Regions from separate parts of the Homo sapiens genome. Here region 2 is linked to region 1. The links come from fine-mapping of genetic effects on gene expression. A gene starts in region 1. The other region holds a variant in brackets. All regions are shown on one strand. Distances are between the middles of the regions.

The links. PIP is the estimated chance that this variant, and not a neighbour inherited with it, causes the effect. A credible set is the group of variants that fine-mapping cannot tell apart.
Region 2: its variant is the best candidate, but not a certain one, in a credible set for the expression of RNF38 in whole blood (TOPMed, PIP 0.74).

The regions. Positions count from the first base shown.
Region 1 is chr9:36,398,058-36,402,449 of GRCh38, forward strand. It overlaps RNF38 (ring finger protein 38), which reads right to left and starts at 2,212. Exons shown (of 12, transcript NM_022781.5): 1 at 2,040-2,212. The coding sequence starts at 2,051. It overlaps LOC124902152 (a long non-coding RNA gene), which reads right to left. Exons shown (of 2, transcript XR_007061475.1): 1 at 3,837-4,392; 2 at 3,408-3,528. RefSeq lists an enhancer at 2,172-2,241 and silencers at 2,452-2,781, 2,812-3,271.
Region 2 is chr9:36,316,944-36,321,335 of GRCh38, forward strand. It overlaps LOC102724322 (a long non-coding RNA gene), which reads left to right. Exons shown (of 5, transcript XR_001746660.2): 5 at 854-1,522. Among named protein-coding and RNA genes, the nearest start is that of GNE, 61 kb to the left of the region's middle. The variant G/C (reference allele first, on the strand shown) is at 2,109.

The DNA of each region.
Region 1 (4,392 bases):
GTTATAATTTTATTAAATAACAATCATAATTCAAATAATTATTGCTTGCCTGCCATATGCTGGATGCTGTGACTACAAAATGGGAAAAAGAAACAGTCCTTACCCTTAAAGCAACTCAGTCTAGTGAGGGACAATTAATAACAGGAACTACAAGAAGATAATAGGGCTCCATAACCTAGATAGAAGAGGTGAAAAGTTCAGATCCTTAACAAAGGGAAAGATCTAAGGCAGGCAGGCTCCATGGCAAACACCTGTAGTCCTAGTTACTCAGGAGGCCAAGAAAGGAGGATCACCTGGGCCCAGAAGTTCGAGTCCAGAAGGGACAACATAGCAAAACCCGTTTCTGGAAAAACTAAAATTAAAAAAAAATTTTTTTAATGAAAGATGTAAGAGTTGGGAAGAGACTGTGTACATGACCCCTCTTCTTCATCTGTTTATTCTAAATTTCTCTCATTAATTTACTATATAGAGTTCAAGTATTAATGCTTTATCTCCTCTAGATAACGTCGTATTAATTAACGTTTGCTGATGAACTAGACAAGAACTATACTGTTCAAATCCATGTTTACAATCTGTTCGCTCTTTCCAGAGAAAAGGCTGTGAGTTAAGTAGAGTAAAATGGAAGTGAAAACTGTCTGACATGTTTTCTTAGCAGGAAAACCAAAACAAACACAACGCAACAATCAAGACTAATTAAGAACTACCTTTCCAGCAAGATGAATTACAAAATGGTGGTGGCCTAAACCAAACTAGAGGTAGTACAGAGAAATAGGTGGAATAAACTAGAAGACATAATCTTGACCAATAATCTTTCCATACTGAGCAAGTACCTAATCATTTCAGAAACTTTTATCATAAGAATTTCTCACCCACACTTTCCACTCACAGCCTCAAAAAAAGAAAGTGAGCACAAACAGAAACAGCCTAGGAATGTAACATGAATTAAAAGCCTCATCCAATGCTGTTGGCAGAGAGACAACAGATCTACACTCTACATTATGATGCTAACAGTCAGTTATGTCTGACTATGCCATCTTGTTTACTCTTCATCAAAAATTAGGTTATTTTAGTAGAGAAAATTCTCCTCAATATTCACCCAGAGTAATACTTGACAATTTAACTATAAAAACAAGATGGGCATATAAAGCCCAACAAGTATGGAAATACGAACTACCTTCTAGAATCACAGACGAAGTCAGAGGTGGAAAACCCACAGATTATTTAAGTCCAACTTTTTTTATATTTTACAGATGAGAGCCTGAGGCCCACATGACGAGTCTGTGGCAGAACTTATTCAACTATAGGCGCTAAGGCCTTCAAATCTCTTAGAAATAAGTCTTACAGAAATATCATAAAAATCAACTTAAAATTGAATGAACAATGTATGATTAGCAGGTTTGCAAAAGGTGAAATATACCATATTATAAATATATATAATATATTATATAATACCATATTATAAATAAATATATTATAAATATATATTTATAAACCCCAGAGAAAGGAGTATCTGAAGTGACACAATTCCCAGGTAAACTTCCAGTCAGAAATTTCATCTTTTTATTCCAAGTGTGTCCCAGCTTCCCACACCTGATCTGACATCTATATGTATGTGGTTTCGTATTATCTCTACAAAAGTTCTATTTCTTCCATTAGACGGTGTTCCCTGAAGATAGGAACAATTTTACTTCGATTCCAACTGTCCCTATAAAAGGGAATTTTTTTTAAAGCCTACATACAAGGTTTGTTTGCTATTGAAAAAAATTTACGGTAAATTTTCAAGTATAACAACACTCGCAATCAAGGCCAAACAGAATACAGCAGACTTGCAACTCTAAGGTAACAACTGTATTATGAGCTTTGTATACATTTAAGTTTTCATACGTTAAGTCCACCGCTTAAGAAAAAAGAAATGGCAATTCATATAATGGTGGCAATAATTACATGTGTGTGTTTCTACTTACGGTAGAATTAGCATACCCAACTTTTACTGAATAATAGCATATATCATTTTTGCAACACAAAGAAAAATACTTTACCTTACAAGCCATACAGACGTAAACAAAAACTTTATTTCTTTTTGGACCTCAATAACCTGAAACACTCCCGTTTCAAAAACCAACCTCTCTCACGCTTCAACCCTGAAAGGAAGAACTTGCATCCCCTGAGAACAAAACGCAGCCTATCCAGAAACCCACGGAAGCAGAAGGACGCCAGAGAGGACCCTTTCGACCGGGTTCCGCGTTCTCCTGGGTGACATCATTTCACCTGCGTCTCGGCAAAAAGGGAGGGAGCGAGAGAGCGAGGCCATCTGCCGGGCAGCGGGCCGGCGGCTCCGCGAGCTGAGACCGCGCCTCCTCGCCACCGCGGGAACAAAGAGCGCCGGGCGGCCGAGGCAAACCTTAGCCCAAGACTCGGGCGCGGCCCCGCAGGCTCTCAACGGCCCGCAGCCCGTCCCGCCCTCGCGCTGCAGCCAACGGCCGCGGCGGCCAGTACCTGCGAGGGGAGGCTCCGCCCTGCCGGGCAGCTCCCGCGGATCCTCGCTGGGCCGCCGCCTCCTATTGTGACTGCTCGCCCAGCCCGCGGCCAGCTCGCCAGATCCGCCGTCCGCGGGCCTCCTCACCCCCGGAACCCCGGCTCCAACTTAGGCACTGTCACTGCGCTTCCTTCCTCCCGGCACCATCACACGGGCCGCGCCAGGAAACGACGGCTGCACGCCCAGAGATGACAGAGTCGCCTAACGCCTCGGAGGCTCCATCCTCTCCGCCCCCACGCCCCAACCGACCGGGCCTCGGCCCCGTCCCGCAACACCGCACTAGGGGCCCGGCCCGGCCACGCCCCTCCCCGCCCCGCCGCGCCCCGCCGCACCCCGCCTCACCCCGCCTCGGCGATCACAGACCCGGGCTCCCTATGCGCCGGCGCACTGGCCTCCGCTGCGCGCGCAGGCGACTCCCCTCGCCGCTAGGCCGCGACACGCGCGGTCCTCCCACTTCTTGGGTCCGGGTCGCCCGTCCCACCCCGTCCCCTCGCCAGCACAAACCTAGCGAGCCCAGCGCGCCAGACCACCGGAGCGCTCCTCCCTTTTCCCCCAGGCTCCGCACCGCGCGCCGAACCCCCTTTGTTTCCACCCCGAGGGGGAAGGGGGCGGGGCGGGGCGGGGCGGGGCTGCGCGCGGCCCGGCGCACGACTCGGACCAGTTCCGGCAACAGAGCTCCGCGCGCAGCACCACTGCGCAGCCCCGCCCCAGCCCGCCCCCCGCTGCCCTGCGGACCGCAGGGCCCTGTTCCAATTCCTATAGATTTTCTCTTAGTAAATTGTTGCTACTGTTCCGTGCCTCCTACCTACAAAACTCCGCAATCAAACAGTAACTGACCTCACGTAGTTCTTACAGCATAAATGCATTCACGTGGCCCGAAAAGTAAGAATTTTTATTGCAGTACACAAAGGTGTCTCTCAATGCAGCAAGCCAACAGGTTCGAACCCAACTTGTCCGAGGCTTCCTTAAGTGTGACAGTTGCTCAGATGTCGCTTGGGGAGGGGAAATAAGAACAAAGATTGAAGCCGGCTTGGCTCCTGTCCTGATAATCACGATACAAGAGAGAAAATAAAAATTTCCACAAAAGCACAATCCATACAAGGAAAAAATAGTAAAGTGGTATCAGACTTAAGGAGAGAGGGCAGTCAAGAGGACATCATGGAAGGGGTGGACTTTTTAAAGCAGAAATTAGATGTTTCCCGCAAGGATGGTGATCATATTTTAGGGTGGTAGAGTAAAATTATTAAGGACCAGTCAACAGAAAACTCGGGTTTTCAAGTTCTAGTTCTTTTGGCATTACTTAAACCAGTCTCTCTTTCCCTCTCTGGGCCTCAGCTGCAACCAGTAGAAAATGGGGGAAATCAGAGTAAATGTTGTTTCAGGACCTTCTGGACCTTGGACATTCTCTTTATGAACAACACTATATGGTAATTATTTATGTACACTTGTCTCCCATATCAGACTGAGCACCCAGACTCTGTTGGGACTGTGTAAACTAAACCCAAGGCCCAAGTCTAGTGCCAGAAACACAAGAGAAGGTGTTTAGCAACTGCTGAATCAAAGTTCCAGCAATAACATCATAGGTTTTGGAATTCCAGGACAAACAAAGAGAAGCTGGAAAGAGGTATTAGGTCCCTATGAACATATCCACCCCAAACCCATACTCGAATTATGTAACCCAGTTAACCAGCTGGCTGGCTCTCTCCCAAAGCAGCCAGTTTGGAGATGATCACATCTAAACTTGTTTTTTTTGTTTGTTTGTTTCACTTCAAGGTAAAGTGCCAACCATACCTTTAAGTTTATCCAATGTATCCTATTTTCTATCCTCTGTATCCCTCACAAATCGCAATCTACTG
Region 2 (4,392 bases), 81 kb before region 1:
GGATGGAGCTGTGGAGAGGAATGGGTAGAATGCCATGGAGATATTGAGAACAAAAGGCCATGGCTAATACTCCCACTCCGGCCCCAGCACCCAGGCACAGGGAATCTGAGCCCCCTCCACCCACATCTGCGAGCCCCTGACAGACTCAGCAGATGTCAGCTTTTTTGAAGAGACGGTGTCTCTCTCTGTTGCCCAGGCTGGAGTGCAGTGGTGCAATCACAGCTCAATGCAGCCTGGAACTCGGCTTTGCAAGTGATCCTCCCACCTCAGCCTCCTGAGTAGCTGGGACTACAGGCATGCACCACCACGCAGAGCTCCGGTTTTTTGTTTTTTTTTTTTTGAGATGGAGTTTCCCTCTTGTTGCCCAGGCTGGGGTGCAATGGTGCCATCTCGGCTAACTGCAACCTCTGCTTTCCGGGTTCAAGCAATTCTCCTGCCTCAGCCTGAGTAGCTGGGATTACACGCATGTGCCACCATGGCCAGCTTATTTTGTATTTTTAGTAGAGATGGGGTTTCTCCATGTTGGTCAGGCTGGTCTCGAACTCCTGACCTCAGGTGATCCACCCACCTGGGCCTCCCAAAGTGCTGGGATTACAGGCGTGAGCTACTGCGCCTGGCCTCGCAGAGCTAATTTTTTACAGAGGCTGGGATCTCACTGTGTTGCCTAGGCTGGTCTCAAACTCCTGGCCTCAAGCGATCCTTTGGCCTATAATCCCAAAGTGCTAGGATGACAGGCGTGAGCCACCGTGTCCGGCCTCTGTCTGCCATCTAACTCGCAGCCTGCTTCTATCATGTGCTGGAGAGCTGCCCTGCCTGCTGAAGAAAGCTGAGACCCCAAACGTCTTTTCCTCAGGAAGGTGAAGGTGAACTTGGTGGCCTTTACCTGATGACTCTGCTGATATTTGATCCCTGAGGGAATGAGCCACGGTTCAGCACCCAACCCCCACTTGAACTCTGCAGTTTCCCAGTTTCATTAAGAAGCCCATTGTTGAGTCTGGCCATGCGTCAAGGACACGTGGACTCTTGGGGCAACCCCGTTTCTCCAGCATCCTCCCAGGTGATGGGTTGGTGTGGCCAGGAGCCAACAGGAAGGGTGTGGGCCAGAGGGGAGAGGCTTCCTAGCAGCTGGCTGCCCTGGAGCTCCGGGAAGGTTTGACCATCAGGTTTACTGCACCAGGAATATATCCTTCAGTTTCCCCCAGCCAATCTGTAGAATAAGGAGAAATGGAGAGTGTAGGAAGATAACTGCAGTGTGGACACAGCCTCAGGTTTCTTCTTCGGTAAAGCTGATGTTTATTACACAGGGGCATAGTAAGTGAAGCATGCACTTCATTTTTCATTTTTCCTAGAATCCAGTGCTGCTAAAAAAAAAAAAAAAAAGGACAACTGTTTACTCACTGAAGAGCAAATATATACGTTGTTGGATGAGGAAGAAAAAGTTCCGTTGGGACGGGGCGTGGTGGTTCACACCTGTAATCCCAGCACTGTGGGAGGCTGAGACAGGAGGATTGCTTGAGCCCAAAAGTTCGAGTCCAGACTGGGCAAGATGGCGAAACCCCGTCCCTCCAAAAAATACAAATATTAGCTGGGCGTGGTGGTGTGCACCTAGTCCCAGCTACTTGAGAGGCTGAGGTGGGAGGATCGTTTGAGCCTGGGAGGCAGAGGTTACAGGGAGCAGGAGGTTACAGTGAGATGAGATTGCGTCACTGCACTCCAGCCTGGGCGACAGCAAGACCCCGTCTCAGAAAAAAGAAAAAGTTCCATTGCTCCCCACCACCCAAATGAATGCCACCTAAAACAGCTCCTGAATGGCTGGGGGCCAGAGTGGCGGGTTTTGGGAGAAACAAACCACAGCTGCCAGTTATGAGGCACCAGCTGCACCACATCGTTTCATTAGATCCCCCGCGATGCCATGAGGCAGGAGCTCTTCAACTCACTTTCCACATGAGGAAAATAAGGTTTCGGGAAGTTAAGAAACTTGTTTCTGCCACACACATCTTACCTTCTGATTTGATTTTGTGAGAAAAGCCTGGTTTGTTTGTTTGTTTGTTTGTTTTTGCCTGAGCATGGTGCACATTTCAATCTGGAATGAAGGAGTATAGTGAGGG[G/C]GAGGTGCGGCGCACCTCAGCTGTGCAGGTGTGTGGTGTTACTTAAAGCACACCATAGCGGCTACTGGGAAGCCTGGGTCCCAGCCCTGTTGCTAAGCTGCTGCTTGACCTGGAGTAGCTCCCTTTTCCCAGCGTGCCTCAGTTTCCTCATGGGAAAGCTCACTACCAGCTGAAGGTGAGTGGACTGGGGATGGAGAGGAGGGGACAGAGCTGGGGTGCAGGCCGGCAGACGGGTGGAGTGTGGGAGAGGCTGAGATGGGGAGAGTCCGGGGAGCAATGGGGTTCCAAGGAGGGGGCTGAGTCCTGGCCTGGGGAAGTCAGGTTCAAGGCGCTGGCGTCCCAGCTGATCCCTGGACCTGAACAGGGACCTGTTCCCTGTCCTGCTTGGAAGTCCCATCCTGGGTGTGGGCAGCCAGAGAAAGGAAGCGTTCTCCCAGTGCTGCCATGGGCTGCAGCCCTACCCTGCTGGGCTGAGTTCTGTGTTTAATGGAGGGAGGAGGAGGAGAGGGGTGAAGAGCTGGGCCTTCTGGTAGCTTTTTATAATTATTTCTAAAATGCTATATTTGGATATTATTTTCTGCTTCTACAAATAAAACATGCATATTGTAAAAAAATTCAAACATAACAAAAATCTGAAATTGCTGGAAATGCTTTCCCAGGGCTGCTCCCTAGAACAAACTATTAATTATTAGGTGCTCATTGTACATGCTTTTTTACTCCTTTATTTTCCTTTTTTTTTGGTAACATATGAACATGTTTATGTTGGACAATATAGAAGTATTTGAATCCAAATATCAGAGTTCCTCTTCCACTCCTTTCAACCTCCTGGTATGGCAGGCCAGGCCTCAGGAACGCGGGCCTCCGTAACAACTATTTCAGTACTGACTGGTGAAGTTAAATATTAAAAGCTGGTAGAGCCAGTGTCCTTACACAAAAGCTGGAATGTAACAAAACCCCACCCAGAGTTTCGCCTAGGCCTTTCCTGGGCCTTAAAGCATGACAAAATAACGAAGGCATTCTTAACAAAACCTGTTTAGGATTAAACAAACAAGTTTTATTGGGGGGTCTGAAGAAACTCCCCAGGCCTCCACGAACAAGTTTATTGGAGGTTGGAAGGAACTCCCCAAACCTCTGTGATTTAGTAGGAGACAAGATAAGGGTAATCACTGCAGCACCTGGACCCATTTAGATTAAGTCAATTTACTGAGGCTCCAGAGGAAGGTCTTCAGGACTCAGACCTTAGTTATAGATTAGAAGTTAATCACTTATGTCTTTAGATAAATGCACACTTACACGTACACATAGAGCTTAGAAGGTATATAAGCTCTGGAATACTTTGAAATTTTGAGTTGGTCTGGCGATAATTTCCAGGCCTTCTCCCTGCACCTGGTTACAGAAATAGAAATTCTCTTCTTTCCCAGTTTATCTGCATCTTGATATGGGGCCACGAGAATAAGCAGCTCGTCCCTCGGTGTGGTCCGGGAGCACTGGCACTAAGCACTGGGCAGTGGGAGGGCAGCTTCTGGGCAGTGCCCCCCAGCCTGCTCCCTCCTGCCACTCCACCTCCCAGGCAGGTCCTCCCACCTCCCCAGGGGTGTGGTGGGGAGGGCTGGGGAGGCCTCAGCACTCCACTGACTCATCAACCCTTCTGTCCTTTGATGGGTAGGATGGGGTGAACGCTAATGCCAGCAGACCTGGTTTCATAATATCTTAGTGTGTTCTGCATGTGTGATCCAGCCCCTCCCTTGGGATGCAGGGGAACTATGCATCTTTTATGTATTCTCAGACTTTGAGGTCTCAGCTGAATTGGAGACAGAAATAATCCCATCTTAATGTCCAGTCACATAACTATATCATCACTTATTTAACTGGCTTTCACTGATGGACATTAGGTTGTTGTGTGAGTGTGCATGCAATACACATCACACCCATGTGTGAGCTCCTGTGCTAGTATTAATATTATAAACAATGCCTCTCATCATGCCACCTGACTTCAAACTATACTATAGAGCAGCAGTAACCAAAACAGCATGGTACTGGTACAAAAACTGACACATAGACCAATGGCACAGGATAGCCTAGAAATAAGGCCACGCACCTACAACCATCTGATCTTTGACAAACCTGACAAAAACAAGCAATGGGGAAAGGACTCCCTGTTCAAAGTGGTGCTGGGATAACTGGCTAGCCATATGCACAAGATTGAAACCAGACCCCTTCCTTATATCATATACAAAAATTAACTCAAGATGGATTAAAAACTTAAACATAAAACCCAAAACTA